2 separate regions of the Homo sapiens genome follow, and region 1 is linked to region 2. Evidence: fine-mapped expression QTL. A gene starts in region 2. The other region holds a variant in brackets. All regions are shown on one strand. Distances are between the middles of the regions.

Evidence for each region.
Region 1: its variant is fine-mapped to the expression of SH3BP5L in whole blood (TOPMed, PIP above 0.99).

What each region holds. Positions count from the first base shown.
Region 1 is chr1:248,795,564-248,812,065 of GRCh38, forward strand. It overlaps LOC124904577 (a long non-coding RNA gene), which reads right to left and starts at 11,955. Exons shown (of 2, transcript XR_007067008.1): 1 at 11,486-11,955; 2 at 3,225-4,191. SH3BP5L (SH3 binding domain protein 5 like) reads right to left here. Exons shown (of 7, transcript NM_030645.3): 7 at 14,883-16,502. The coding sequence ends at 16,337. RefSeq lists enhancers at 7,082-8,281, 9,690-9,899. The variant G/A (reference allele first, on the strand shown) is at 8,348.
Region 2 is chr1:248,819,402-248,835,903 of GRCh38, forward strand. SH3BP5L (SH3 binding domain protein 5 like) reads right to left here and starts at 6,514. Exons shown (of 7, transcript NM_030645.3): 1 at 6,434-6,514; 2 at 5,352-5,965. The coding sequence starts at 5,534. It overlaps MIR3124 (microRNA 3124), which reads left to right and starts at 6,976; the gene lies at 6,976-7,042. RefSeq lists enhancers at 6,186-6,245, 6,308-6,859, 6,616-6,875, 6,860-7,410, 6,986-7,035 and 2 more.

The sequences.
Region 1 (16,502 bases), 24 kb before region 2:
TTCTTTGTTCTGTGACAGCTGCTACAATGGTTGCTTCAGGGAAAATGAGTAAAGAAACTCTCATTGAGTGGTCCCCTTCTCCTATTAGGGTGGCACTGTGTGAGTTGGTGAGAGGGCCTTTCTCACTGCCTTTTCCCAGAATTTCTCTGTAAGCTAATGACCAGGTATCTAAGCAGGAGTTTCCCTTGTAAAGCAATGGGCATAGAAGGTCACTACATGTGACTGGCTTTAAGGGCAGAGAGCTTGCTGGGGAAGGTGGAGGAGAAAACAGAATGTGACAAGGGGTCTTCTGTGGGGGCATATGTTAAGTTCTACATCCTATACCCCAGGAGTAGCCAATGTATCAGAAGCTGCATGTCAAAGTCTGGAGTTTCACTGATGAGTGACTCTGCTTTACTGATACCAGGGTGTCATTGCGTCTAAACCCTCTCAGCTTACTGATCAAGGAGATATATGAGTGTGCATTAACACTTATGTATACACATATTTATAAATATTTGTATATGTAACTCTCTATCCATATTAAGCTAAACATTAATTCATACCACTGTCTCCAATTTTAATCCATTAACATGTGAGTCCTTCTAGCCCCCTCCCCTTGTTTATCTGTAACCTGGCTTTCACTATCTGCCATCCATTTACTTAATTGTTGAATTCTAGCATACATGTATAGCAGTATCAGAATTGTTACCTCCATGGGAAACAACTTTATTTACTGGAGTTCAGTGCTTATGAACAGTTTCTTTTGCCTTTTGTCTTACAGATTCTACTAATTTCCAAATTTGCTTAGGGGTCAGGTGCAGTGACTCACACCTGTAATCCCAGCACTTTGAGAGGCCAAGGCGGGAGGATTGCTTGAGCCCAGGAATTTGAGACCAGCTTCAGCCACTTGGTGAAAACCCATCTCTACAAAAAAATACAAGAAAAATTAACCAGACATGGTGGCACATGCCTGTAATCCCAGCCACTCAAAAGGCTGAAGTGGGAGAATTTGTTGAGCCTGGCCGGGCACGCTGGCTCACGCCTGTAATCTCAGCACTTTGGGAAGCCAAGGCAGGCGAATCACGAGGTCAAGAGATCGAGACCAACCTGGCCAACATGGTGAAACCCCGTCTCTACTAAAAATACAAAAAGTAGCTGGGCGTGGTGGTGTGTGCCTATAATCCCAGATACTTGGGAGGCTGAGGCAGGAGAATTGCTCGAACCCGGGAGGTGGAGGTTGCAGTGAGCCAAGATTGCGCCACTGCACTCCAGCCTGGTGACAAAGCAAGATTTCATATCAAAAAAAAAGATAAAAAAATTGTTGAGCCCAGGACGTTGAGGCTGCAGTAAGCTGAGATTGCACCACTGCACTCCAACCTGAGCAACAGAATGAGACCCTGTCTCAAAAAAACAAAACAAAAAATAGCTTAGGTAGGTCAGCATCTTACTCCTCCAGCCCCTTGAGTGAGGTTGCCTCATTAAACGTTTAGATTACTTTGTCACAGTGTTCATTTCTTCTTGTGATTCTCCCCACCTCATAAATGATTTTTTAAATTTCACATACATTAAGGTAATTCTTTGTGCTCTAAAACTCTATAGAATTTGACAAATACTTAACGTTTTGTATTCACCATTATATTATCACACAGAAGTTTCACTGCCCTATAAATTTTCCTGTGCCTCACCTATTTAACCTTCACTTCCTTCCCCAGAACCTCTGGCATCTACTAATGTGTTTAAGGTCTTTTAAGTTTTATCTTTCCCAGAATGTCATATAATTGGAAGCATATATTATACAGTTTTTTTTCTGGCTGGCTTCTTTCACTTCATAATATGCATTTAAGATTCTTTTATTTTCATAATTTGATATCTCATTTCTTTTTATTGATAAGAAGCTATTCCATTGTATGGATGCAACACAGTTTGGTTATCCGTTCACCTATTAAAAGACATCTTCCTTGCTCCCAGTTGTGGGTGATTATGAATCAATCTGTTACAAATATTTGCATGCAGGTTTTTGAGTGGACATACATTTTCAAATCAGTTGGGTAAGAATTTAGGAACGTGATTGCTGGATTACATGGTAAGATTATGTTTAGTTTTGCAAGAAAGTGTCAAATTATCTCCCAAAGTGGTTGTACCATTTTACATTCCCACTACCTGTGAATGTGAGTTTATTTCGCTCTGCAAACTTTCCAGCAGTCAGTATTATCAGTTATTTGCATTTTGAATATTCTAATAAGTGTGTAGCGGCATCTCACTGCCGTTTTAATTTCCAATCCCCTACTGACATATCATGTTGAGCACCGTTTCATATTTTTATTTTCCATCTGTATATCTTTTTTTAAGGTGTCTGTTCAAATCTTTTGCCCACTTTTGAACTGGGTTGTTTTCTTGTTGAGCTGTAAGAACTCTCTGTACATTTTAAATACAAGTTCTTTGTATATTTTGATATTATCAGATGTCTATTGTTCAAATTTTTCTCACAATTTGTGGTTTATCTTTCCTTCCTTTGAACCATGTCTTTAGCAGATCAGAGGTTTTCAATTTTAGCAAGTCCAACTTGTTAATTTTTTATTCCATGGATAGTGCCATTGAAAAACACATCATCAAACCCAAAGTCATGCAGATTTTCTCCTATTTTTTTTCAAGTAGCTTTATAGTTTGGCATTTTATGTGTATGTCTATTTTCAGCTAACTTTTGTATAAAGTGTAATGTCTCTGTCTAGGTTCATTTTTTTGCATACAGTTGTTCAATTTATCCAGCACTTTTTACTGAAGGCGGCTATCTTCTCTCCATTAAATTGTCTTTGCCCTGTCATCAAAGTTCAGTTGACTATATTTATGTGGATCTATTTCTCTTCTCTATATTCTGTTTCACTGATCTGTGTGACTATCTTCAATTGATAATATGCTGTCTTGATTACTATAGCTGTATAATAAGATTTGAAATTGGGTAGTGTCGTTCCTCCAAATTTGTTCTTCTTCTTTAATATTGTGTTGGCTACTCTAGATCTTCTGCCTTCTCATATAAAGTTTAGAATTAGTTTGTTGCTATCTACAATAACCTTCTGGGATTTTGATTGGGACTGCATTGAAAAAAGCCAGGGAAAATCTGTATTCCATTTTAAAAATTATTTTTAATTATGGTAAAATACACATTACACCAAATTTACCATCTTAGCTATTCTTAAGTGTTCAGTAAGTGGTGTTAAGTATATTCTCATTTAGCACGCAACCAAACCACAGAACGTTTTTATTTTGCGAAATTGAAATTTTATACCCACTAAACAAGACTTTCCCATTTCACCTTTTTCCCCTGGTAACTATCATTCTACTTTCTGCCTCTATGAATTTGTCTTCTAGGTATCTCATGTAAGTTGAATCATACAATATTTGTCTTTTGTGACTGGCACATTTCACTTAGCATAACTTCCTCAAGTTAGTCATTGACTTCTTATGTTAGTCTTGTATCCCATGACCTTGCAATGCTAACTTACTTCCATAAATTGGTTTGTTTTGTTTGTCAATTCTTTGAGATGTTCTACATAGAAAATTGTATCTTCTGCAAATAGAGTTTAATTTTTTCCTTTCTAACCTGTAACTTTTTTCTCGTTCTTGTGTTATTGCACTACCTAAGATTTCCAATACAGTGTTGAATAGGAGTGGTAATAGAGGACAACCCTGCTTTGTTTCCAAGCTCAGAAGAGCATGCCATTTTCATCATTCTGTGTGATGTTAGTTAGCTGTATGTTTTCTGTAGCAATTCTATGTTAAAGAAGTTTTACTAATTCATAATTTGCTGAGAATTTTTATCATAAATGGGTGTTTGATTTTGTCAAACTTTTTTTCTGAATCAATATAATCATATGGCTTTTCTTCTTTAGTCTGCTGATGTGCTAAATTATATTGCTCAGTTTAGAAACCTGAATCAGTCAGCCGGGCGCGGTGGCTCACGCCTGTAATCCCAGCACTTTGGGAGGCTGAGGCGGGCAGATCACCTGAGGTCAGGAGTTCAAGACCAGCCTCAACATGGAGAAACCCCATCTCTACTAAAAATACAGAATTAGCCGGGCTTGGTGGTGCATGCCTGTAATCCCAGCTACTCGGGAGGCTGAGGCAGGAGAATTGCTTGAACCTGGGAGGCAGAGGTTGCGGTGAGACGAGATCGTGCCATTGCACTCCAGCCTGGGCAACAAGAGCGAGACTCTGTCTCAAGAAAAGAAAGAAAGAAAGTTAAATCAGTCTTACATACCTGAAATAAATTCCACTTGGTCATGGTATAAAATGTTTTTACACACTGTTTGCTTTGATTTGCTAATATTTTGTTGATAATTTTTACATTTATGCTCATGAAAAATACTGGTCCATTGTTTTCCTTTCTTTGGTGTCTTTATCTGATTTTGACTAGGATAATGCGGGCCTCATAGAATGTGCTAGGAAGTGTTCCACTGCTTCTATGTTATGGAAGAAATTGTGGAAAACTAGTATCAGTTATTCCTTCAATGTTTGATATAATTTACCAGTGAAACCACCTGGACCTGATGTTTTCTTTTTTGGAAGGTTAATAATTAATGATTTAATTTATTTAATATATAGAACTGTTCAGCTGATCTATTTCTTCTCTGTGAATTTCGGCAATTTGTATTTTTCAAGGAATCAGTCCTTTCATCAAAATCATCCAATTTGTGAGCATGGATTTATTCATATTATCTTTTTATTATCATTCTAATGTCCAAGGGATGATTAACATTCTTTCATTTATAAAATTGATAATTTGTCTCCTCTCTGTTTTTCTTGGTTAGCCTGAATCATTAATTTTACCAGTCTTTTCAAAGAATCAGCTTTCGATTTTATTAATTTTTCTCTATTGTTTCTTGTCTTCAAATTCATTCATTTCTGCTCTAATTTTTATTATCCCTTTTCTTCTGCTTCCTTCAGGCTTAATTTGTTTGTCTTTCTCTAGTGTGCTAAGGTGGAACGCTGGGTTATTGATTTTAGCTCATTTTCTTTTCTAATGTAGACATGTTACTAAAACTTTCCCACTATGCACTCTTGCTGCACCCCACACATTTTGACAAGTGGCATTTTCATTTTCATTTGTCCTAAATATATAAAAACTTTTCTTTACACTTCTTGATTCCTTATTTAGAACAGTTTTTGTTTCATTTCCGAATATACTGTAATTTTCCAGCTTTCAGTTATTGATTTCTGGTTTAATCCCACTACGGTCAGAAAACATACTTTGTATGATTTCTATTAATTTTGTCAAGATACTATTTTTATTATGGTAAAAAAAAAGTGGATAACACAAAATTTACCATCTTAAGCATTTTTAAGCTTACCATTCTGGGTTTTTTTTGTTTTTTGGGTTGGTTTGTTTTTGTTTTTGAGACAGGGTCTTGCTCTGTTATCCAAGCTGTAGTGAAGTGGCATGATCTCGGCTCACTGCAACCTCCACCTCCCAAGTTCAAGCGATTCTCCTGTCTCAGCCTCCTGAGTAGCTGGGATTACAGGCATGCGCCACCATGCCTGGCTAATTTTTATATCTTTAGTAGAGACGGGGTTTCACCATGTTGGTCAGGCTGGTCTCGAACTCCTGACCTCGTGATCCGCCCGCCTCAGCCTCCCAAAGTGCTGGGATTACAGGCGTGAACCACCGCACCCAGTTACCATTCAGTTTTGCTAACAATATTTACATTGCTATGCAACCAATCTACAAAAGAAGTTTTTATCTTGTAGAACTGGAAATTTTTACCCATTAAACAACACCCCATTTTCCTCTCCCCAGATTCTCTAGTTACCACTGTTCTACTTTCTGCTTTTGTAAGTTTGACTATTCTAGATACCTTATGTAAGTGTAATCATACAGTATTTGTTCTTTTGCGACTGGCTTGTTTCACTTAGCAAAATGTCCTCAAGGATAGTCTATGTTGTAGCATATGTCAGAATTTCCTTCCTTTTTAACGTTAAATAATATTCAATTGTATATAACGTATTTTGTTTGTCCATTTATCTGTCAATTGACATTTGGGTTGCTTTTACCTCTTAACTATTGTGAATAATACTGCTTCAATATGGGTGTGCAAATATTTCAAGAGTCTGTTCTCACATTGCTATAAAGAAATACCTGAGACTGGGTCATTTATAAAGAAAAGAGTTTTAATTGGCTCGTAGTTCTGCAGGCTATACAGGAAGCATAGTGGTTTCTGCTTCTGCGGAGGCCTCAGGAAGCATCCAATCATGGCAGAAGGCAATGGGGGAGCAAGGCCAGGTGACTTGCTTTGGCCAGTGAAAGGTGAGTGAAGGGACAAGTCTTGGGACCCCTGTGCACTGTTTGCCACATCCCTTCCACCTGCCGGAAAGATGAGGTTCTCAAACTCCAGGGTACACTAGAATCACTCTAGGGGTTTGTTGAAAGCTGCTGGGGTCCACTCCCAGCATTTCTAATGCAGTATTGCTGTGGGCAGAGGAGTGGAGGTAGGGGGCTGAGAATTTGCATGTCTAACAAGTTTCTGGTGATGTTTATATTGTTGATCTAGAGAACACATTTTAGGAACTAGAGTCATAGAAGGATCCTCCCTGGGCCAGGGTCTCTGAGTGATACCTTCCTATTGAACCATGTTTAAGATGAAGGTTGGGTGGGGAATAAACATTTTTCTGTTCCCATTTCACTGTGGGATTTTGATGTTTATAGGTGAAAGAACATATCCCACACAGAAGCATAAATCTCTCACAACCAGCAGGACCTCGAGAAAGAAACACCATTTTGATTAGAGGGGCTTTAGTTTTCCCTGGGCTCCAGGTACACAAATCCACACGGAATTAATGGTGCAGAGCTGTAGAGAGGCTCTCAGCCATGTCCTAAGGCACATTCTCCTCAGTCCTCTCCCACCTGGTACATAGGATACCTACTTCCAGGGGGAAATCCAAGATTTCCTGGGAAGACAACTCCTTTCCCCTGTGCCTTCCACGGGTCCTGCCTATAGCTTGAGTTCACTCACAGAATCTGGTTTCCTATTGTTGGATATCAAACACTGTTGGAGCCAACAGAGGGTGGGACCTGTCTGAAACAAGACTCATCAGTGATCTTCCTGATCAGAGCCATAAACCTCTGGCCGGCAGTCAGCTGAAGGATTCAGGCAGCACTGGGAACAGCCACTTCACCTAGGAACTTGGAGATAGGTCAAGATAAGGAGGGCTGTAAATCTAACTCGGGCTCAGCTAGAGTCCTGGCACGTATGAGTATCATTTGTGCTACCAGCCCGGTCACCTACGAGGCATTCCTCTTCTTGTCTCTGATGTCCCGGTCACCTACGAGGCTTTCCTCTTCTCATCTCTGATGTCCCGGTCACCTACGAGGCTTTCCTCTTCTCATCTCTGATGTCCCGGTCACCTACGATGCTTTCCTCTTCTTGTCTCTGATGTCCCGGTCACCTACGAGGCTCTCCTCTTCTCATCTCTGATGTCCCGGTCACCTACGAGGCCTTCCTCTTCTTGTCTCTGATGTCCCGGTCACCTACGAGGCTCTCCTCTTCTCATCTCTGATGTCCCGGTCACCTACGAGGCCTTCCTCTTCTTGTCTCTGATGTCCCGGTCACCTACGAGGCTCTCCTCTTCTCATCTCTGATGTCCCGGTCACCTACGAGGCTTTCCTCTTCTCATCTCTGATGTCCCGGTCACCTACGAGGCTTTCCTCTTCTCATCTCTGATGTCCCGGTCACCTACGAGGCTTTCCTCTTCTTATCTCTGATGTCCCGGTCACCTACGATGCTTTCCTCTTCTTGTCTCTGATGTCCCAGTCACCTACGAGGCTTTCCTCTTCTCATCTCTGATGTCCCGGTCACCTACGAGGCCTTCCTCTTCTTATCTCTGATGTCCCGGTCACCTACGAGGCTTTCCTCTTCTTGTCTCTGATGTCCCGGTCACCTACGAGGCTTTCCTCTTCTCATCTCTGATGTCCCAGTCACCTACGAGGCCTTCCTCTTCTCGTCTCTGATGTCCCGGTCACCTACGAGGCTTTCCTCTTCTCATCTCTGATGTCCTGGTCACCTACGAGGCTTTCCTCTTCTCGTCTCTGATGTCCTGGTCACCTACGAGGCCTTCCTCTTCTCGTCTCTGATGTCCCGGTCACCTACGAGGCTTTCCTCTTCTTGTCTCTGATGTCCTGGTCACCTACGAGGCCTTCCTCTTCTTGTCTCTGATGTCCCGGTCACCTACAAGGCCTTCCTCTTCTTATCTCTGATGTCCCAGTCACCTACGAGGTTTTCCTCTTCTCATCTCTGATGTCCCAGTCACCTATGAGGCTTTCCTCTTCTCGTCTCTGATGTCCCTCCCTCCAGCGTGTATTTTCACGTCTCTCCTC[G/A]TCTCTGCTGCTTCACTTTTGTCACTTTCTCCAAGTCTTTTGGGTTTGTCTAGCTGCAGATGTTTTCTCTCATCCTCATCATTTATGCTTCCAGATCAGTTTTCCTGTCATTCTTATTCAGCTTTTATCTCTGTCACATTCTCTCTGAAAGTGTCGTTAAATATATATACATATGTATGTATATACATTTTTTTTTTTGAGACGGAGTCTCACTCTGTCACCCAGGCTGGAGTGCAGTGGCGCGATCTCAGCTCACTGCAAGCTCCGCCTCCCAGGTTCACGCCATTCTCCTCCCTCAGCCTCCTGAGTAGCTGGGGCTACAGGTGGACGCCACCAAGCCCGGCTAATTTCTTGTATTTTAGTGGAGAAGGGGTTTCGCCATGTTGCCCAGGCTGGTTGCCAACTCCTGAGCTCAGGTAATCCGCCCGCCTCAGCCTCCCAAAGTGCTGGGATTACAGGCGTGAGCCACCGTGCCCGGCCCTAAATATATTTTTAACCAACCCAGAAAAAATTAAAAAGTATATCCCAGGTGGCAGGTGAACTAAATACCTGGTTCACTTTATTTAACCTCGGGTTTGTTTTTGTTAGTGTTATGAAGACGTAGCTCCCCTCCTCCTAAGGCCTCATGCCCTTTTCTGTTAACAGTCCCTTCCAATGGGGCAGCCATGGTCACTATTGCCAGATGCAACTGTTTGAGGGAATGGAGAGGATTGTAATCTGAGGCTTCTGAAATTGTAAAGTGAAAGAGGAGATCTGGTAAAAGGGGCGAAGATCAGCTGAAGGAAGGTCAGATGTGAGTACAGCAGCAACGGTTACATTCCCACCCTGGGCTGCAGAGGCAGGTGGGCTGCAGAGGCAGGTGGGCTCCTGGCCTCTCTCTCCAAGTGGAGTGGGAGGCTGAAACCATAGCAACACTGAGGTTAGCACACAAGGCAGGTGACATTAAGCAACATCCTCTCCTTCTTCCCTAAACCACAGCAGCCCCTGCGAACCTGTACAGCTCCATGAGCCTCCTCCAGCCTTCACTGCTGCCCCAGGCCCCCAGGCCCTTAAGAATTCCTGCTGGAAAAAAGCAGGCCGTGGCACAACTGAGATTTCCTTGTGTCAGTGTGAAGATGATCCAGCTCTTCTGCATGTTATTGCAGAAATCATAGAGACGAAACAGGATGGGGTGGCCTGGAAGGAGCATGGAAGATGAAGCCGCAGCTGAGGAAGAAGGCAGCTCTGCTGCTCCACTCTACCCTAGACCAAGAAGGTTCCTCTTTTCTAAATGGGGAAGAAACTCATTTTGACACTCCCTTCCTCCTATGTTTGAATAAATCAAGAAGCGTATCTGCACTGTGCAGTGAAAGCCACCTGCCTGCCTGGAGAAAGAGAAACTACTGCCCAGCACTCTGAGCTCTTCGACCTCTGGACGATGATCATCTCACACCCAAGCAGAAATATCCAGCAGCCCTCTGCTCCCTCCGGGCTGGGTCCTAACCAACTCTGGACTTGCTCAGGTTTCTCATGCTCCAACCCCTAACCCTGTCTGCAAACACATGCACCATTTCACATCATCCATCAGAACTCTTCGCATGGCCCAGCCTCCACTGCCAGCTGTATAATTTTAGTGCTTTAGATAACCTTAGAGGTTATCTACTGAGTCTGTCCACACTTCCGGCAGATTGGAACACTGAGGCCCAGAGGAGCTGAGTGAATTGTCCCTGTGCACATAACCCCTTGTGGCAGGGGCAGGCCAAGGGCAACCCTCTCTGAATAGTGTGGTCAGTGTTTTTAACACCGAAGCTCTCAAAAGAACTAATGTTTACTGAGCACCTAGAATGAGGGTGACCATATGTCCTAGATCACCCAAGTCAGTCCCAGGCCACACCTGCCCCCTTTCACACTCAGCTGTCCCAATTTAGACTATGCATCACGTATGGTCCCTGTACATATGTCTATTGTGTTATGTGTTGAGTGAGATGGAGTCAAGGATGATACTGACCCCTTCTTCTGAGGACTTAGGACCAACAAGAGACATGTCTACAACAACCGGCCCATTCTTCAGTAAGTCAAAAGAGCCATGGGGAACTTGAGAGTGATAAGGATTAATTCAGACTGGGCTAGAGAGGTGCCTGTGGTTGAATCCCAGCTCATGTGGACTTTTGACCACATGATCTGGTCCTCAAACCACAGGCAGCAGTTTGACAGTTTGAGAAGGGAGGAAACTTGTGCCAAGGGTAGCACAAGCAGAAGTAAGTCAGTAGACAGCTGTTTGGTGAAAATTTCCACATTCCAGGTCCTGAGAACACCAAGATGGGTGAGACACAGGCCCTGGGAGCTCAAGACAGATTTGGGAAGAGTGAGGATTGGGAGCCAGGCACCACTTCTCCAGTCTGAGACCAAGGGGCTGGTTCAGAGCTTCGGAGAGCAATGCCCAGCTGTAACCTCCCAGATTTTTCCTTGACTGCAGCCCTCATTAGTTATTTATTTACTTATTTTTAGAAATAGGTTGTCCCTCTGTCACCCATTCTGAAATAGTGGTGTGATCATAGCTCACTGCAGCCTCAAACTCCTGGGCTCAGGAGATCCTCCCACTAGCCTCAGGAGTAGCTAGGACTACAGGTGCATGCCATCACGCATTGCTAATTTTTTTACTTTTTGTAGAGTCGGGTTCTCACTATGATGCTGAGGCTGGCCTCAAACTTGGTCCTCAAGTGAGCCTCCCACCTTGGCCTTCCAAAGCATTGGGATTACAGCTGTGAGCCATTGCTCCTGGCCTGGTTATGTATTTTTCACTGCCCTGCACCACCTGTGCACACCTGCATTCCTTACCTGGAAGACCCACCCATGGCATTACAGTTTATAGTGTTCCTAACAAGGCCTACCACAGTGTTTGTACACTGAAAGATCCTGGTGAACATTTCTTAGTAAACTACACATATCCATTTGCCAGCCAGTGTATGGTCTCCTGGTTCCCTTATCCCAGGGCATGAGCAATGTGTTGCAGCCTGGGGCTCAGGAATGGTGAGCAGGCGTGGGTGGAGAAATTTATAAAGAGGCTGTGGAAAGGGAGAGGGAAAAGACACTAGGGAGGCCAAGGAAGGAGGTGAGCTCTGAGGAGAACAGGGTACATCTACATATCGAACATCTTACCTCCTGAGACCAGCTGCGCTGCAGACTTGAGCCAGCTCTCACACGCAATAGGTGATTCCGAGGACACACGGGAATGCAAGAGGCCCATGACAAGTACAAATAGGGTTCCATTCTGATGTATACACACCCCCACCCTTCTATGTGCAGTTTTTCAGGCCCTTCTGCAAAGTGCCCATGAGGCTGACCACGCAGGCTTGGAGGGTCAACACGCAGTGCGCGCAGGGAAATGCAGAGCCCAGGCTCTGCGCACTTTCTGGTAGCTGCTGCCCCCTGCTGACACAGCAAGACCTTGACAGCCCAAGAAGGTCATCTCCGCTCTTCCTGCCAGGCAGAGTAGGAGCATCTACAGATGGGTTGATTCCACACCCCACAAATACGTACAATTACAATATGTCAATTTTAAAAGATGTCTAAAGGCTGGAAGCATAACCAGGCATGGTGGCTCATGCCTGTAATCCCAGCAATTTGGGAGGCCGAGGTAGGGGGATCGTTTGAGCCCAGGAGTTTAAGACCACCCTGGGCAACACAGGGAAACCCCGCCTCCAAAATAATCCAAAAATTAGCTGGGCATGGTGGGACACACCTGTAGTCCCAGCTACTTGGTAGGCTGAGGTGGGAGGATCTCTTGAGCCGAGAAGGTCGAGGTTGCAGTGAGCCAAGATCACATCACTGCACTCCAGCCTGGGCTAGAACGAGTGTCACAAAAACAAACAAAAAAAAAGGCAAAGAGCAGTGGTTCAAGCCTGTAATCCCAGCACTTTAGGTCAAGGAGGGAGGACTGCTTAAGTCCAAGAGTTCAAAACCATTTTGGGCAACACTGCAATACATCTCTACAGAGAAAAAAAAAATTAAGTTAAAAATTAGCGGGGTATGGTGGTGTGCATCTGTGGTCGTAGCTACTAGGGAAGCTGAGACAGAAAGATTGCTCGAGCCCAGGAGTCCCACGCCGCAGTGAGTTATGATTGCACCACTGCACTCCAGTCTGAGCAACAGCGCAAAACCCTGTCTCATAATAAAATAAATATTAAAAATTAAATTTTTAAAAAGGCAGTGGGGTTGTCATGCTTGTCAAAAATCATATCCAGATGAGGAGGGAAACACAACCCTTTCATAGAGTCCACTTGCCTAGCGCAAGATGGGATGAAGCCTCCGTGAGTTAAGCACTCCGAGGCTGTGAAGAGGTGCTAACAGGAATCGCTGCACCTCAGATCCACTGATGTAGCAGCATGCCACACATGCCTCTATGCTCCCATTTTATAGGCGATAAAATTGAAGCGTCATGAAATTTGAGAATTCCCATAGAGATGTGATCCTGGGATTGTGCATCACCAGGTCCTGACCTCCAAACTGCTGTACTGATAAACCCACCTGATACAGCTGTGGGCTAAGAGAAGGGGCAAGAAGCAAAAGCACATTTCCTGAGCATCTGTTGGTGAGAGCCTGTGTCAGGTGTTGGGTAGACTGAGGCCCCAGCCCCACACTTGAGGAAGATGAAGATCAGAACAATTCATTACCAACAGGCCAATGTAACATGTAACATGACACAGTACAGGAATGGGGGATGGGGCCCTATGTCCCCCACACCTTGACCATCTCTTCCTCACCTTAAACAAAATTTCTCGACCCTCTTTGCTGGGAGAAGGAGCTAAGAAACAGTATTCCCACTTCTCATCTCTTCTTCCCAGCAAAACTTCCTCGGAGATGACTACCTCCACTTCCTCACCTCCTGTTCCTGTGAGCCCAGTGGTTCAAGCGTTTGGACTCTAGAGTCCAAGTGCCTAGTGGGAGCCGCCTCCGTTACCTTCAGCAAGGCTGAGTACCCCCCATTGTGCCTTATTTTCTTACCGTGGAAAGGAAATCATAGTGTTTATCTGTCCTATAACATTGTTGTAGAGATTAATTAGGGGCGTTCCTGGTACGTGAAATGCACTGGATGAGTACAAGTTACTACAACGAGGGTGGGAGGGAGGGAGCTCTTCGGCTTCTGTCTTCTTCTCCTTAGAAGTACCATTGGCTCTAACCTTCCTGGTCTCTCTTCCCGCCTGCCGCATCTTCTAGGTGATTTTGCAAGGAGAAACGCACGTGCATGGCATAGCCCTTCTTTTCTAGGGCTCTTCTGTACCAGGAGCCTCACAGGTCCTGCCTGCCAGTGACTGGGTAGGGAAGTCCAGCACTGTGTGTCATCTCAGAAAGCCCTTCATTAGGACTATAATACTGTATTATAGACTGAAAATTTGCTGAGAGTAGATTTTAGGCGGTTTCACAACAAAAAAGGGGGGAGGTAACTGCAAAATGATAGGCCAATTTGATACCTATTTCATTATGTGCATCAAAATACCATGTTGTTCACCTCCTATACATACAATTTAAAAAATTTAAAAAGCCCACTCACCCAAAAACATATGCTATGCATTTTCATAGCAGCTTTTCTAGTAATAAAATATTATGACACCCATCTGCCAAGTCAGGGAAGGCAATCTCAAACTCCTGGACAGCACCCATCCAAAGGCACAGTGAGTGCTCAGCACATAGCGGCCCCAGATGGCCCCTCAGATGGCGTCCACAGCCACCAGGGTCACTGCTCTGATTGCGTGCCTCCAATTCTTGGCCTTCACCCTGCCCCTTGACCCCAAGGTTTCTGGTCTTCCTCCCTGCCAGCACCTTCTTCTTCCCTTGGCTGACCTCTTCTCAACAAAACTCCAAATACTGGTACACTCCAAGTGCAGCTCAGGCTAAACAAAGCCTTTTGCTCTTCTTCAAAGCTCCTGGAGTTCACATCCCTATCCAATCTCCCACCTGTGAGTTCAAGTGCCCTCAAACCCCTCCCATCCCCCAGCCAGTCAAGCCCTGACTTGGAAGTCACCTTTTATCTAGGTTTTAATTTCAGAGAAACAACGGATAATTCATAATGTAAGTACATCCTAAACACTGCAGCAGACAAAAATACTGCCTATCTGAAATTTCAGTGGGTTCACTGTATTGATAAATCTGGCATCACTACTTGTGTCCCTTCTCTACATTCATGCTCACATCCAGACACATCTAAGATCCCAACCCTCTGGCACTCTCATCTCTTAGCTCAGACAGAGCCCACTCCACCCCGCAGGCCCCTTTCTACCAAACCCTCTCCTGGCACCCATCACCTCACACAGCATGGCCCCATGAGGCACCAACTCCTCCCCTGCTTCTCTACACTTGCCCTGTACATGACCACCCTGGCCATGGGGCCTTCCACCCCCGCAAGAGCATGCATAGCGCAGCTCACTCAATCTGGTCCTTCACCTCCCTTCCCTGACCACACCATCTAAAAAGCCTGCCGCCTAACCCTGCTCTTCCCTTGCCCAACCCTTGCCTCATCTTTGCCCCTTTTCTCTTCCTCCAGCAAGGACAGTAGATGTTAACTGTTACATAAACTACTTTATTTAAATAAAACCAGGAAAGACCCTTTCCCCCTTACACACCAGCACATGCACACACGCACACCCACACCCTCCCTCCCTTTCGGCTGTCTGCCCATGGCCACCTCAAACCCCGAGGTTCTCATTGTGACCAACCTCCCTCAACCTGTAGACCCCCGTGCAGAGTCCAGTTGCCCACGCATCCCGGTTGCTGGCAGAACATGGGCCTAGAAAAGAGCACTCCATCTTCCTGGGGTGGGTCAAAAGGAAGGACTGGTTCTCCCAAGGCACCCAGATCTGGTGTGGCTTCCCTACAAACTGGGAGCACTGCCAGGCAGCTGGAGCTGCTCCCTGCGGAGGGCAGAACTTTTCACCCCAAGCCAACCCCTCCCTGTAACAAAGGAAGTAAGAGGGTTGGCAGCCAAGCTTCAGTGTGCCCCGAGGGATCCTGCAGTAGGTATTTTCAGTTTGGGGAAGAGCAAGGGAGAGCAATTGAGCACCAAATTCCCTAACCCCGTCCTGCAGGAGGGTGCTGAGTCAGTTCAGCATCCTCTACCCAGAAAAAGTAAACACAACTGTGCAGCAAGAGTGAGGGTGGGAATGACAGGGGCCTAAGCCTTCAGGACCTCATGACTTCACCCCCAACATGGGCCCTCTTAGGGACCCACTAGCACCTTGGCAATGTTGAGGACCCAGCCCAGCGGAAACACCATACCCACAGGAGCCAGTCTGGAGTTGGTGATGCTCCCTATGTTGACAGTGGGGTTGGGTTTCTCTCCCTGACACCAGCTTCCTGCAGGCCCTGTAAGTTCTGCTTTGGGGCACACATCGCAGAGTGCCTCAGGTCATGAAAGGGAATGCTGAAGGGAAAGGTGGTGTCTTCCGGAGGCACACAGTACATCTTACAGGTTACACACGGGCAGGCTGGAGCAGGACGGGGGGCAGGGCTCAGCAGCATACCTAGGGTACCCTCCAGAGTTGCCTTGGGAAGGGGGGCGGGGCTGGAAACCAACGGGAGGGGTGACTGTCCATCCCCTCCGACGGGAGTACTCAGGCCCAGCACCCATTTTCTCTGATGAGCTTCCCAGTGCCTTCTAGACCAAGTTCCCTGAGGGAAAAAGCCAAACAGATGGAAAGAGAGGGAGCAGAAAGGGAAAGCAAAGGGTCAATGCCCTGCAGATCGTGATGAGCTGGCAGGCAGAGGCAGACAGAGCGCCGAGGGCGAGCCTTCTGAATGGGTAAGGCAAAGAGAGCCGCCTGCTGAGGGGAAGGGGGAGGCTGTGAGAACGCCAGGGCAGGCACAGAGGACTCGAACACAGCTGGCCTCTCCCAGGGAAGCACTGGAGAAGGGGACCTTCGGGAAGACGAGGCCCCAGAGGAGAGGGCGTGAGAAGACTGTGGGCCCCAACCGGCCCGTGGTGGCAGATTCAAGCCAGGAACCCTGGCCCCTCGGCTACAGGCTGACGCTGCGCTGGTGCCGACCCCCACGGGCTCCGCCGTCGCTGCCCCGGCGCCCTCCACTCCGCGTTCCCAGCTCTTGGCCGTCCAGACTGACGTGGTCCGAGAGGCCTCGCAAGTGCTCCACGGAGTCGCACTTCTGCAGGTCTGAAGCCACCGTG
Region 2 (16,502 bases):
AAAAAAAAAAAAAATCGTGGGCAGGCGCAGTGGCTCACACCTGTAATCCTAGCACTTCAGGAGGCCGAGGTGGGAAGATTGCCTGAGCTCAGGAGTTTGAGAACAGCCTGGGCAACATGATGCAAAGCCCATCTCTACTAAAATACAAAAAAATAGCTGGGTATGGTGGCACACACCTGTAGTCCCAGCTACTGGGACGGCTGAGGCAGGAGAATCACCTGAATCTGGGAGGCGGAAGTTGCAGTGGTCTGAGATTGTGCCACTGCACTCCAGCCTGGGTGAAGGAGCAAGACTCAGTCTCAAAAAAAAAAAAAAAAAAAAAAAATCACAAAAAAAAATCTCATAATGTTTTAAGAAAAGTTTACAAATTTGCATTGGGCCGTGTTCAAAGCCATCCTGGGCTGCATGCGGCCCACAGGCCACGGGTTGGAAAAGCTTGCTCTAAATTTTCTCGAAGAGACTTATTCAACAGAAACGTAACAGGAGCTGCACATGGAATTTTTAATTCTAGAAGCCACATTTTTTAAAAGTAAAAAAATTTAAAAAAAGAGTGAAATTATAAAAATACATTTAACCCAATATATACAAAATATATTTCAACATGTGATCAACATAAAATAATATTATTATCCATACTTTTACTTTTTTAAACTAAGTCTTCACAATCCGTATGCACTTGACTCTTGTGACACATCTCAACCTAGACAGTGGCATGTGGCTCCTGTGTTGGGTGGCGAAGGTCTAGAAGTTGTTGTATTTGGGTAGATGCATCTACAGTGTCCCACAACCCAGTGTCCATAAAATAACAACCATTCTGGAAGAACAGGCAGCCAACACAGCTCAGGGCCCCAGAGGAGGCATAGGGTCAGCATCAACACTACCAGACACATGGAACTCCAAGTTTCACAGTGCCTTCCGAACAGAGACATCACCAGCAACTGACACGATCACCCCAACAGGCCCTAAAAAGGCAATGTCTGTCAAGCTGAAAGGCAACCTACCTCCCTGGGGGCCCAGCTTCCTGGGGCTTGACGAGGCCTACAGGGGCTTTTAGGCTATCTGGGAGACGAGTGACCAGTTCTTTCAGCACCTCCTGCTGGAATATTCTTTCTCAGCAACTTTGCATTTGATAGATGAGAAACAACCAGGCGGAAAATTAGTGACAGACTTGGGTCTGGATCCAGGACCGACCTTTGATCTCACTTTCCTTCCACTGTGACCACCCTCCTGGGAATGAGGACACCACTGGAAGGACATCTCAGTAAAGAAAGAAGTGCTGTAATCTAGGAAAACCACAGCCCACGTAGGAAAAGGACAGGGATTGGAAATGCAACAAACATTGATTGTGGGGGGTCAGTTGGTAAAGGCCACCCTGCAATGTTCATGTGGCAAATCAAAGTCCAAGACGGGATCCCCACTGGATTCCATGGCCTCAAATGCTTCCAGTCATCAACTTCCAGCTCCTGACAAGATCATCAATGGATTGGATGGCTCAGCATAAGTTGTTACTACTGTTAAAAGGACAAGAAGAGCTGTTGCTATTGGCAAGTGGCAGGAGTGGGCATTATCTTTCTATATGGGAACTAGCTTCCCAGTGGCACCTCCAGCAATTTACAGAAAGCCATCTGCTGATGGGATCTGTCCCCTCAGAGTCACAAAGCTCTCCCTAACAGGACAAGAAGATGCCTGGGGAGCAAAGCAGCCTGGAGGGCAAGGTCACCACAGGAGGGAGGGGGATAGCCCACCTAGGCGACACCCAGGGAAAGGCTGAGCAGGAATCCACTGAGGACCTGGGACAGTTTTGGGCAGTCAGCAACACATTCCATTTGGCCTGCTTCACCAGGGACTCCTGGCACTCAGCTGAAACGGAATTTGGGGAGGACAAAGTCTGAATCAACGTGCATCATCCATCAGTGAGCCAGCAGCCAGCAGGGAGGGTGACCTTCCCAGGGCACAGCAGTCAGATTCCCAGGATGCCAGGACACTGAATCAAAGGCATGGGGACTCAGGCTGCAGATGCTCCCACCCCACCTAGTGCAGACCATCAAAAGACTCAAACTAATGGTAACTGGGGCCAGGGTGATGACTGTCCTGTGAAAGCTAAACCCATACTTCTAGATGAGGTCACAGAGGTTGCAAAGTCACCCTAGAGAGTTTGGAAAGGAGCAGGTAAACGAGAGCACTCACATCTGAGGAAAGAATGCAACCACTAAGAGGGGGCTGAGAAAGTCACAGAACAGACCCAGGTCCATCCTAGATCCACGCTCCTTTCCTCTTCCCTCCACTGGAACCCTCTCGGAAAGCTGAGGATGAGCCTGGAGGACTCAAAAGAACTCCACTAAGATCATGACAAGGAGACACAGCCAGCAGCCTTCCCTGGAGGGACAGCACGCTCCAGGTAGGCACCAGCTGACTTCCTTCTAACTTCCAGAGGAATCCCACCATAAATGGCCATGGAGCTGCCTGCCTGCAAAGGAGCCCCAGCCCCAGGTCAGACAGGGCCTCATCCGAAGGACAGCCATTTCCGGGAGCCTCAGAAAATACCGAAACAGGCGCTCTACCTTTGGGATATACCTGGCCCAGTGGATTTGGCTCTGACTGTAACATCAGAATCCCTTCTCACCCCACCCAGACTAAGAGAATCCACATGTCTGGAAAGGCTCAGGTAAGGGTATTTTTGAAGCTCCCTGGTGGCTTTTTATGGACGGTGGATGGAAACCCAGTAAATGCACTGAGAATCCAGAGAAATGAACACCCACCTAAAGCACTGAAACACATGATCAGAGCAATGTGCATGGTCTAGTGAACTGTCAACACTCAAAGGGACCTCGAAAGACAAACACCCCAATCTCCTCCTCATCTTGAAAGCCCAAGCACAGAAGGGCAAAATGCCACCGGCCTCCTCCGTGAAGGGTGCCCCTCAAGCCAGGCTGCCTCTCTCACACAGCAAGAAGACACTGACTCCCTGCTGAGGTCAGAGCACTGGCGTACCCACACCTGTGTCATCAAATGAGGGAAGCTATTACTAGACCTTTCCTCCCTATACAACCCACAACATTCCACAACGTGTTGTGCAGTTTAGCAAGAGAGACGAGGGTCTGCTTTACCTTTCCTGCACCAGCGACATCACAAGTTCACTGGAGGCAAAGTAAGTCTTACGCTACCTCAGTGTACTCCAACTCTCATAGAGCTCATCTGATAGAAGAGTCAGTGATGACAGAATATTCTATTTATGCACTGTCAGTATAACATTGAGGAACTGCTTTTTTTTTTTTTTCTGAGACGGAGTTTCGCTCTTGTCACCCAGGCTAGAGTGCAGTGGCAGATCTCAGCTCACTGCAACCTCCGCCTCCTGGGTTCAAGCAATTCTCCTGCCTCAACCCCCCAAGTAGCTGGGATTACAGGCACCCGCCACAACACCTGGCTAGCTTTTTTTATTTTTAGTAGAGACGGGTTTTCACCATGTTGGCCAGGCTGGTCTCAAACTCCTGACCTCAGGTGATCCACCTGCCTCGGCCTCCCAACATGCTGGGATTACAGGTGTGAGCCACCATGCCTGGCCGAGGAACTGCATTTTTACATGTTAATTTTAATTGATTGTGTTTAAATAGCCACATGCAGCTAGTCCACCCTATTAGACAGCACAATGCAAGCATGACTCTTCCTACTACTACCATGTGCCTATGCAGACACTGGAAAAATACATAGGAGTAGTAGAGGCCAAGTAAAGAGACCACAGTGGATTCTCCTCTGCAGAAGCCTTCTCTGGAGCAGGGCAAGGAAGGCTGTAGGGAGGCATATAATGCACATTACACAGCCCTCCTCCACAAGCAACAGAGAGACAGCTCTTTCCCAAAGTGCTATCTACAAACTATCACCAAGGAACAAGCAAAAAGAGTTTGAGAAAGAACTGTAGACTTGTGTCAGAGCAGAGCAAGAATGAGTTGTGCAAATCAGCTAGACCAACTGCTCACTTTACAGATGAAGAAACTGAGGCTCAGAAACGTAAAGAAACTTCCATAAAAATCATAAATCATGGGGTTGGAGGTAGCGTGAAACTCAGCCCAAGACTTTTTTCACTACAACTGATTTCCTCAGAGGATGATAAATCTGTAGAAATAGCAAGAAAAATTGGCTGTTTTCAATGCAATGTCAGGCAGAGCAGAAATAAATTACTGACTCATGCCAGAAACAAATGGCTCACCACTGCTCCATTATAAGCATGGACACAGTAGAAGAGGAACCCACACACACACACATATCCCAGGAACCCACACAGAGAGTGAAGGAAGAATGCCAGGACTGGCTTTGATTTCTTCCCAACTCACTGGAGTAATCCAATAAAGGTTTGCTGACAGATAAGCCTAGGAATTTGAGCCTTCATATGTTCTTGCTCACCTACAGAAGAGTCACTTCCACAACATCAGAGTCTTGGAGATGTGACCGGAACAAATGGCAGACTCAAGCCCCAAACATGCAGGAGCATCCTGGTCGTCACCTGCCCAAGAAGCTTCCTCAGGAAGTCATTCTCAGCCAATTCCCTGAAACACTGCAACCCAGCTTTGATTGGCCAGGCATCTCTTCCACATGGAGTTGGTCTTCCTCACTGACTACCCCCAGGTCTCCTACACAAAGATCTGCCTGTCCTACCAACTAGATTGTAGACACTCCAAGGCAATAAACTGCTCTTCCATTCCTTTAGGAGACCCACTATCCTGAGGGCCAGGTATGTATGTTACTAAGGATTGGCCACAACAAAAGTTACAAATCCTTGAACATATGGGGTTTCTTTATAGATCTAAAGTTGATGCTACCTTTATAACACTGGAAAGGTCTCACTGTTTACAAGGGTGAAACACATTATCAGAGCAATGTGGGCCGCACATCCCTGGAAGGTACCGCTGAGAAGGTGAGAAAGGGGAAAAGATTCTCTCACTCAGCCTCAAAACTGTCCCCCAGTATCAAAGTCATCTCCTCTCACACAGCATCCCTAACTAAGGTGGCAGCCCCTCTGCTTATCTGGAAAGAAGTACAACACACCTACCCTCCACTGACCTAAAGTGTGCCTCCTCCATCTACTGCCAAGTGACACTTTGCTCCTTCAGTGAAGCTTTCAGCAATGCCTCCCAAGCACTAAGGCCAGGCCTTTCTCTGCACTCCATCAGCACTTCAGACACACAACTCTTTTGGAACTTGTTACATTACCCTGCAATGATTTGTTGACAAACTTGTTCTCCTTTCCTGCCCCAGCAGACTGGGGACAGAGTAAGTCTAAGCCCTCATTCATCCAACACTCTTCAGGGAGGCTGGAATCTGGGCTCTCCTTCTCTCCCTGCTCTCAGTGCTCTCACCTGTATTCTAGGATCCAGTTCTTCCTCCTCTCTTGGGGACAATTTGGCCTCACTGCTGCTGCTTCCACCTCCTCCAGGCTCTTCTGCGACTGGGCTCCTAGGGACTTCATCCTCTACAACTTCAGGCCGCAGCTCCCCCTGTGGGGTCTCCCGCCCTCCTGGAACCTGTCTGAGCTCAGCCATGCTGACAGGGGGAGGGCAGAGCCCTATGCACAAGAGAGGACTGACATGCTGGGACCAGGGCCCCAGCTTGGGGCTTCCTGGGCTCTAGATGGCCAGGAGAAGAGTTTCTCTTCTCAAAAGGCAGAAAAGGTGGGCACAGGAAGAACCTCACACTAGGTTAGAGGTTGAGATTCAAGTTGTCAGTGGGGTTCCTAGAGCTGAAGCCTTGTCTGTGCAAAAGTTCTTCCCTTCCCGCCACAGGGAGTCCACTGTGACAAACCCGGAGCAACAGCTCCAAGGCAGGGGGCAAAGGGGGCTTGGATCCTGGACCGAGGCCTGCTAGGAGGAGCACCATTCGGGAGGGTGGAGGCAGGCGCCTCCAGGCTGTGGTGGCAGCTGGAGAGAGAAGGCTGGGCCCGAGCTGAGGCTGTAGGATGAGCGTCTCTGGGGAGCTGCAGAGAAACAAAGGCCAAGTATATGGTCATGTCAGCATCAAAACCGCAGCCACCAGCCCCTTCCAACTCTACAGCCTCCCAAAAACTACACTCTCACCACGCCCCCACCCATGTATTCCGACCAGTCCCTACCTCAACTTCTCTCCTTAGCCCTCAAGGACTTTAGATTCTACTCTTCCCCCGTCCCAGCTCCTCTCGACCCAGGCCCTCCTCAACCAGCGCCTTCGAGACTTTCCTCTGCACCCCTAGGCTCTCCTCCATCTCCTGTGGTCTCCCGCTCGTCCCACTCCACCCCAGCCCGGCTTTGCGATTCACCTTGTAACCCCGAGCCCCACCCCACCTTCTCTGTCCAACCCGAGACATCTAAGCCTCCCGTCTCCAATTCCACACTCTTCCGCAATCCCAAGGACCCTACTCCCGTCCATTCTACCCAGCCATGCGCAAAAGCCCCCCGCACAGCCTTACCTCAGTTTACCTTCCCGTCCGCGGAGCTTCTATGCTGCAAACAATCTCCCCCCCTCCCTCCCCGCAACAAGCCGATCCAACCAAAAACGACCAGGCAGACCAGAAGCGGAAATACATCATCGGTGAACAACGCTCTCCCTCCCACGCTCTCTCTCAAGCCGGGCCTCCTCGGGAGGCCTCACACTCCCCCGCCCTGCCTTCAGTTTCCGTACAAAATGGTGCCCCACGTTGCTCAGGCTAGCCGTAGGTTGCCTCCAGACCATACTCCACCAAGGCTGAATGAAAGAAAAACATGAGAATGTGGTGCTGAAGAAAATTAGGGCGCGGGACGGAAATCGAGAGTAACTGGTGAGAAGAGGAATACTAGATATAAAACGGAGATAATAGCCTCAGAGTGAGTAGTGCCATCTTGCTTTACGGAGCTGCGGCGGCGGCTGCCGGAAAGCCACTTCCGGCCTGCTCCACGGAGGCGGGCGCGACGCCGAAAGTGAGCTGGTAAACTTCCGGCAGTGGCTCCGGGGGCAACTCGAGTCCGGACGCTGGCGGGCTTCGCGGGCGAAGGCAAAGTCGATTTCCAAAAGTGACTTTCCTCACTCCCGTGAAGTCGGCGGAACCCTCCACTAACGGCGTCTGAGCGGACGGCTCCGATGTGTAAATCCCACTCCTCGAGGCCTCTGGACCTTGCACCTTGAACGACGTTTTGGTGGGGTCACCAATTGCTCCGTGAATACTAACCAGGAACTTAGTCAACATTAACTCAGTTAATTCACTCGTGCACCCAGGGTCAGATGCCCTCGATGAGCAGGAGTTTGTTACATGGCATTGTGTATCGTTACCTAGGTCCCTGAGCGAGCGCCTGCTTGTCACCTCTAGGTGTCGCTTGGTGAGGGGAGGGCCTAGGCCTAAGGGGAAGGGCTTCATTCAGGGTTGGATGTTTTGTTTTTACAAAAGGCGTAACTTCCTCAGAGTCAACTCAAAACTTTGCCCTGCAGATGGAAAAGGCAAATGGGCTGAATTCCCCTCCTTTTTGGATCCTGTCAAAGACAACCCAGCTAGACATTGAAGCAGTGAAAAAGACTTTTTTCAGTAACTACTTACAGAAAGGAAAAGAACTGACCTCTGTTCCGATTTGTACAGAAGTGACTGGGCATTTCAAAGGGAGAATGAAGGAAGGAAGGTGATCAGGGCTCAATAGTGTTGGAGAAGTGAAAAATTACAGATTTGATTGGCATAGATGCGATTCGGCCAGATGTGTCTGCTAGCTAGCAGCTATAGAAGTTAGAGTGCTTTTTTATGTATTTATTTATTTTGAGACGGAGTTTAACTCTTGTTGCCCAGGCTGGAGTGCAATGGCGCGATCTTGGCTCACTGCAACCTCCGCCCCACCCCCACCCCCGAGTACAAGAGATTCTCCTGCCTCAGCCTCCCGAGTAGCTGGGATTACAGGTGCATGCCAACACATCTGGCTAATTTTTCTATTTTTAGTAGAGACGGGGTTTCGCCACGTTGGCCAGGCTGGTCTCGAACTCCTGACCTCAGGTGATCCACCCGCCTGGGCATCCCAAAGTGCTAGGATTAGAGGCGTGAGCCACCACGCCCAGCCTAGCTTGCTATTCTTGCACTGAGATTGGGAGGTAGAGGCTCTGCCCTTCTTGACGATCAATTTCAAAGGAATGGCTCTCAGGTCCTTTAGAAGGACCTCTTGAGTTGTAGCAGACGCATAAACACCTTAAAGAGAAGAAGGAAGGATTCATAATGGTAAGCCCTTAATAAACGCCCTGAGAAAGGGAGGTCAGGAGCCTATCATCAGGTGTTGGCTAGAACAAATAGTAAATTCTCCTGGTAGCATTGAGCTTTCTCAGGCAGGCATTTTCATGGGGGAGCTGGGGTTCTCCTAGGGACATGATCTGACACTGCTAGAAGGCATGCTAAAGTTTGTCTCTTAGTAACTCAGAGGTTTGGATGGAGTCATGTGCCAAGAGTTCTACAGTTCTCAGTCCATTTCTTCTATCCCTTCATCCCATGAATAACGATTTTTTTAAATTGAGCAGAGCAAAATATATTCCTTTAAAAGAGGTGATTGAAAACAGATTTTTCCATTAAATTGGAGGTTTTGTTTTTAAAATTACAAAAGTGATTTTTCTAATTTCAATAAGTCAGCAGGACCTTGAGTAACATTGTCTAAGTGGACAGCTTTGATGGATAATAATGCCTCAGTCTTCTACCACAGTCCTTTTTATTATTAAGGTGCCATACAAAAACCATAAAAATTAAATATAAGGTGATAAACATGATTTATTTGTTGTCTACCAGTCACTTTACTTTTGTAGAACTAGAATTTCACTGTAATAACCTCATTTTACCCAGGATGTTCTGTCTACCCTAGCCTGAATTATCTAACCTTTCTTATTCAGCACTGCTCCAATACCTGTCATTCTTATACCCCATCCCATAGCTCCTTTTCTCTGTGTAATGCTTAGCAATCACAAACTGCTGCTACGTGTCACAGATCTTTGGTGGGAAAACATTATGAATACATATAATGGCCAGACCCCTAGATCACATCCTGAGATTTAGCAGCTCCTTTAAAGTCTCCACTGGCCTCTTCCAAGGTTAACTCTCACCCACTGAGACCACATGTGAATCTATCATGTATAGATTGTGATATAATCCCACAATAGTTTTTCTGCTGGGTTTGGATAATGTTTTGGGTAGGAAGAGATTGGGCGATGCTGTGCATTGATTTAACCTGAACTTGTTTATTGAAGCCAGCACAAACATGATGAATTAAAACTTTTGTCTACAGCAGCACTGTCTGAAAGACCTTTCTGCAAAGAAGGAAATGTTAATCAGCTCTGCACAGTATGGTAGTCTGTAGACACATGTGGCCATTTAGAACTTGAAATGGAGCTACTGTGATTAAGAAGTTGTATTTTTTATTTTAATTTAAATAGCTCTGTGTAGCTAGTTTCTCCTTTCCTGGACAGCACGTTTTTAGAACCTGCCTTTTCTATATAATTTCTCCAGAATACATACTGAACTTTCACATCTTCAATACAAAACAAACAGCCTCTCAGTCTCCACTATCATTTGTCTTTTCTCCACTTCCTCCCTTCCCATTCACCCCTACAGTCTGGCTCCGGATGCTGCCAATTCATAGGAATTACAAAGATAAGGTCATCCATGCTCTCAATATTGCCACATCACTGACATCTGACACTGGGTTATTTCTCTCTTTTTTCTTATCATTTAGCTTCTGAGTCACCCTGGTACTGGGTTTCCTCTTCTCTGGCTTGTTGATTCATTCCTTTATGCAATATGTCTTTACGGAGTGCCTATTACGTGCCAGAATTTCAGGCAATGATGAGAAAAAGGACACTATCTCACTTCCCATGTAGGTGATAGTCTATGGTGCTCATTTTATTTTATTTTTGTTTATTTATTTATTTACTTATTTTTACTTATTTATTTGAGATGGAGTCTCACGCTGTCGCCAGGCTGGAGTGCAATGGCACGATCTCAGTTCACTGCAACCTCCGCCTCCCAGGTTCAAGTGATTCTCCTGCCTTAGCCTCCTGAGCAGCTGAGACTACAGGCACATGCCACCACGCCCAGCTAATTTTTTTGTATTTTTAGTATAGACAGGGTTTCACCATGTTGGTGAGGCCGGTCTCCAACTCCTGACCTCAAGTGATCCACCTGCCTCAGCCTCCTAAAGTGCTGGGATTACAAGTGTGAGCCACCACGCCCAGCCGATGGTGCTCATTTTATAAACTGGTGAGATTCAAACTAATTGGAAGACAACTCAGATATATGTTTTACCTTGCAACCCAGTATACATATATGTGTGTAAATATATTCATTAAAAAGGTACAGGACCTCTCCCCTCTCCCCTCTCCCCTCTCCCCTCTCCCCTCTCCCCTCTCTCCTCTCCCCTCTCCCCTGCACGGTCTCCCTCTGATGCCGAGCTCTCCCTCTGATGCCGAGCCGAAGCTGGACTGTACTGCTGCCATCTCGGCTCACTGCAACCTCCCTGCCTGATTCTCTTGCCTCAGCCTGCCGAGTGCCTGCGATTGCAGGCGCGCGCCGCCACGCCTGACTGGTTTTCGTATTTTTTGGTGGAGACGGGGTTTCGCCGTGTTGGCCCGGCTGGTCTCCAGCTCCTGACCGCGAGTGATCCGCCAGCCTCGGCCTCCCGAGGTGCCGGGATTGCAGACGGAGTGTTGCTTACTCAGTGCTCAATGTTGCCCAGGCTGGAGTGCAGTGGCGTGATCTCGGCTGGCTACAACCTCCACCTCCCAGCCGCCTGCCTTGGCCTCCCAAAGTGCCAAGATTGCAGCCTCTGCCCGGCCGCCATCCCGTCTAGGAAGTGAGGAGCGTCTCTGCCCGGCCGCCCATCGTCTGGGATGTGGGGAGCGCCTCTGCCCCACCGCCCCGTCTGGGGTGTGAGGAGCATCTCTGACCGAATGCCCTGTCTGAGAAGTGAGGAGCCCCTCCGCCCGGCCGCCGCCCCGTCTGGGAAGTGAGGAGCCCCTCTGCCCAGCCGCCACCCCGTCTGGGAGGTGGGGGGCCCCTCTGCCCGGCAGCCGCCCCGTCTGGGAAGTGAGGAGCCCCTCTGCCCGGCCGCCACCCCATCTGGGAGGTGTACCCAACAGCTCATTGAGAACGGGCCATGATGACAATGGCGGTTTTGTCGAATAGAAAAGGGGGAAATGTGGGGAAAAGAAAGATCAGATTGTTATTGTCTCTGTGTAGAAAGAAGTAGACATAGGAGACTCCATTTTGTTCTGTACTAGGAAAAATTCTTCTGCCTTGGGATGCTGTTAATCTTACCCCCAACCCCGTGCTCTCTGAAACATGTGCTGTGGCCACTAAGGGTTAAATGGATTAAGGGCTGTGCAAGATGTGCTTTGTTAAACAGATGCTTGAAGGCAGCAGGCTCCTTAAGAGTCATCACCACTCCCTAATCTCAAGTACCCAGGGACACAAACACTGCGGAAGGCGGCCCTCTGCCTAGGAAAACCAGAGACCTTTGTTCACATGTTTATCTGCTGACCTTCCCTCCACTATTGTCCTATGACGCTGCCAAATCCCCCTCTCTGAGAAACACCCAAGAATGATCAATAAATACTAAAAAAAAAAAAAAAAAAAAAAAGGTACAGGAAAAGATCTTTACCCAAATTATATGTAAAGCACATTAATATTTTTATACTATTTTTAAATGCTGGTGGAGATCTCTTGTTGATTTCATTACCTATTCACAGTTTGAAAACCCTGTCCTAAATGTTACTGTACCCCAGGCCCTGATGTTAGCTTCTGACCATCTCATGCTGCCTACTTTCCCTGAGTGTCCTTACCCTAGTGCATGGCTGTAGTCCTTACCCATGGCTACTGTTCCTTCCTTAGAGCTCTGTCTTCACAGACTTTCCGCAGATCACATTCTGAGATCCTTCAGCCTTTGAGATACCGCTGGCCTGTCCCAGAGTTGCCCCTCTCTCATGGATCCAAATCTGATTTCATCCCCTTTGCCAAATCCTGCTCTTCTGACATTCAATGCTGGTAAGCGGTTCTACAGTCCACCTCTTTACCCTACGGAAAAACCTAGAAGGCACCCCCCACATTGCTTTTCATCACACTAAGTATCTCAGAGAGATGCCTTCTGTTCATCTCATTGCCATAGCTTCAGCTTAGACTCTCCTCATTTCCATCATAGATCACATACCTCAGAAGTCTTCTAAATCAGCGCTTAAAGTAGCACTTAAGCAATGATGGAAGTTACTATATTTGCACTGTCCAATATGGTAGCTACTAGTCATGTGTAGCTCTTGAGCAGGTTTAAATAGCCACATATGGATCCTGCCACAAGGATCCCTCCTAGTTCCTGGCACTAATAAACAACCAACCAATCCCTATAGACTGACTTTATGAGTGAAATGTAAAAATATGAAAGCCATATAAAGATGTTAGCAACACTGTCAATTACTATGTAATATCACAAATCAACTTTACTTCTTAGTTAAATAATTTTTTCATAAATTTTTACTTGTAACTTTTATTTCTAATTTTCTCACATAAGTACCCTAAATTGCCTCCATCATTAAAAATTACCTTTTTTAGGTTTTTTTTGTCTACCAACATAAGCTACCTTTTTATAGTTCTTAACTTTTTTCTACTATCAGTTATATATTTAATAAATACCACCATTAATTGCTGATTAAACATATTAGTTGACAAATATATAGTAATAGAAAGCAGATCAGTGGTTGCCTGGTGGGGAGGTGGTAGAGATTACAAAGTGGCATGAAGCAGCTTGTGGGTAGTGGATATGTTCTCCATCTTGATTGTAGTGAGGCTTTCATGCGGGTATATATATGTCAGAGCTTTTCAAACTGTACATTTCAGTGTGTAATTTGTGTATCAATTATACCTCCCTAAAACTTTTTTAAAAATCCAGTTGAAAACTTGCTCCCAGAAATATATAATGTAAAATCTACTAATAAATGTTAATGGAAGGGACAGCCTGTATTACGCTTATTTGTTTATTTAACTTTTTAGAGACAGGGTCCTGTTCAGTCACCCAGGCTGGAGTGCAGTGGCCTGATAATAGCCCACTGCAGCCTCAAACTCCGGGGCGCAAGCAATCCTTTTGCCTCAGCCTCCCAAGTAGCAAAGACTACAGGCCTTCACCACCATGCCTGGATAATGTTTTGATTTTTGTTTTTGTAAAGATTGGGTCTTGCTATGTTGCTCAGGCTGGTTGTGAACTCCTGGCCTCAAACAGTCCTCCTGCCTCAGCCTCCCAAACCATTAGAATTACGGACGTGAGCCCCCACGCTTGCCCTAAACCTGTATTACTAAAAATCTTTATTTTTACCCTTGTTAAATCTGCTGAGTTTTCCAGAGGTAAATTACTTCCCCGAGTTGCTCATCACATGTCATAATAAAAACAGCAAACACTTATGCAGTGTATGCCTTGCACCTGGCACTGTTCTGGTTTATTCATTTGATCCTCACAAAAACCAACTACAGTAAATTGTACCTTCATTTTACAGTTGAAGAAATTGACAGACAAGGAGATTAAATAACTTGTCCAAGGTCATACTGCTGCTAAGTGGTGGAACCAGTCTTTAAACACAGACAAAAGTATTTAAGATTTTTAAAAATAATTTATAGCAACACATCATATATTAAATGTATCTACTTACATTTTAAATGCTCTAATTTGTGAAAATAACCAAAATCAAAATGCTTTCTAAAGATCCGACAGGTTTGCATGTGATACCATTATTATTTATACTACTGTTCTTTTTTATTTTATTTATTTTTTATTTTTTGAGATGGAGTCTCGCTCCGTCGCCCAGGCTGGACTGCAGTGGCGCGATCTAGGCTCACTGCAAGCTCCATCTCCCGGGTTCATGCCATTTGCCTGCCTCAGCCTCCCAAGTAGCTGGAACTACAGGTGCCCACCACCACGCCCGGCTAATTTTTTGTATTTTTTAGTAGAGACGGGGTTTCGCCGTGTTAGCCAGGATGGTCTTGATCTCCTGACCTTGTGATCCGCCCGCCTCGGCCTCCCAAAGTGCTGGGATTACAGGCGTGAGCCACCACGCCCAGCCCCTATACTACTGTTCTTAACCTTTAAAGTGGTTTCAATTATAAAAACTGATTCTATCCTACCTTGCATTTTACTTTGAAACTGATTTTCCCCCTGAAAGTTCTGCTTTATGATTTTAAGCTCATTTTCTGTGTTTTGTTTTGTGAACCACTGAGCCTAGATGTGAATTTTGAACATAATTTCCATATAACATAACTCAAAAAATTGTGGTTAAGGACTAGGAAGCAATTTGTATTTTAAAGGAAGTTGATCTTCAGATATCCTCTAAACAAATATTCTACTTTTGTGCTATTCCAATTTTATCTACTTTACTATAGCTCTTCACAATTAGTTTACCTGTACAAATGTAAAAATAATTAAAGTAGCATTCTCTCCGATGGAATCGTGTTTGAGCCCTTGAAGTTGACCACAGACTGTAAGCAGCACAAACTCCAATAATTTTCTATTAAGATTACTGTTTAAAAGACATTAAATCCTCTGTGTCAAGCCATTAAGATTAATATGTGTGTTATTGATTCAATTTATGTTTTTGCTTATCTTCTTGTTTCCTGAAATCCATTTTGATATGGCTTTACAATATGTTTGCAACTTGCAATTAATACAAACCCTTATTCCTTAAACACTAAATAAAATCTTCATTTCAGGATTTAGTCAGCCAGTCTTTCCAGATCTTATTATTCTAAATTGTTAGATTTCACTTTTCTGTACTTGGTTCTTTCCTGTATTTGAAAACTGTGTCAGTTGACATCTGTGGAATTATTCGGGGAAGAACTGGAAGCTACCATGCTCTAGAAGCCAATATTTTTATTGTAACTGAAATTAGAATGTTTGAAGAATGGCAAACATTGTATTTAGCAATACAGGAATAAGATTCATGAAATTGAAACAGTCTTCTCAGTCCTTATACCCCCAGTAACACAGTAAGCCTTCAGCATCTGATTTTTGGCATTGTGAATATCCACTGGGCTCACATTTCAGACAGGGATTTGAAATAGTGGTCTATACCTTAGCCCTACTTACTTGCCTTTCAGTTGCCCCCAACAGCAACGTAAGCCATGTACTATGTGCCTGCTCTGCATGCCTATAACTTTTACTTCCCTTCCTTTCTGTCTCACTTCATAAACCACTGACAGTGCCCTCTAGCCAAACATAACCACCTTGATGCTGTTTGACTTACTTCAGCATTGGACATTGTCCACCACTTCCTCACATGGGAATCTAAAACCTGACCGTGTCCTGACCTTCTTCCTCCCCAAAGCCTTTACTGGCTTCCCCTTCTGCAGCTGCTTCCTTTTGGAGGCTGGTGCTCTAGGTATGGTGCCTTCAGCCCCTACTAATCCACCTATAGCCTCTTAGAAATGTCATCCACGCCCACGGCTTCGCGTATTCGCCTCTAACTTCCTAGTCTTTACAAATCCTGATACACCATGGCTCCTCCTCTTCTCACTGAGGGAGGCCTACACCCTTGGGTATGGGATAGACTCTATACTGTAAAGGAACATAATTTATTCATCTCTATATTTCTATTACCCAGCCAGGTGCAGACTCAGTGGGTCCTCAATAAAAGCTTCTGAAAAGGAGGAATTCCTTGATTTAGCCCAAAACTTATTTGCATTTCCTCTTCCAATACCTTCACCCACTCTACCTTCTTGAATTCCTGTCCCACCCCACTCAGCATCTTCCACAGGATTCTGAGCCTCCTCCACTCACTCAGTCTGGATTGAGTGCATGCTCACTCCCTTCCTGTTCATCTAATCCCTCTGCCTGACCCAGTCCCATCACTTATATTGCAGAAATCTGCCACTGGGGGTGTGTGGTGGGAGGTGAAAATCATTGTCACCTCCATCCACAGATCCCTATACAAAATCTTGGCTACATGCTGAGCCAATGAAGTTTACTGATGACCTATTGCAGAATTACCCTATTCTTCCTGTTGTACCTTTATACCACTTTGTACTTTGCACATGATGGGATGGCAAGGTCTGTGGGCGGGGGGAGCGGTTGCCATCCCTCAGCATGTCCTCAAAGGACTCAGTCTCCATTTTGTCTCCGATACTCAGCCCATTTCTTTGCACATAGCAGGTGTTCAGAAATGTGCATCCAGCCTCTGACTCTGCCCTCAAGCTTATAATTTAGTAGGAGAAATAAAGTATGCACATTATTCTAAAGTACATGGTGGCCAGGCATGTTGGCTCTTGCCTGTAATCCTAGCACTTTTGGAGGCCGAACACAGCAGATCACTTGAGGCCAGGAGTTCAAGACCAGCCTGAGCAACATGGTGAAACCCCATGTGTACTAAAATTACAAAAATTAGCCAGGCATGTTGGTGCGTGCCTGTAGTCCCAGCTCTTTGGGATGCTGACACACAAGAATCACTTGAACCTGGGAAGCGGCTTCAGTGGGCCGAGATCATGCCACTGCACTCCAGCCTGCGTGACAGAGCAACACTCTATC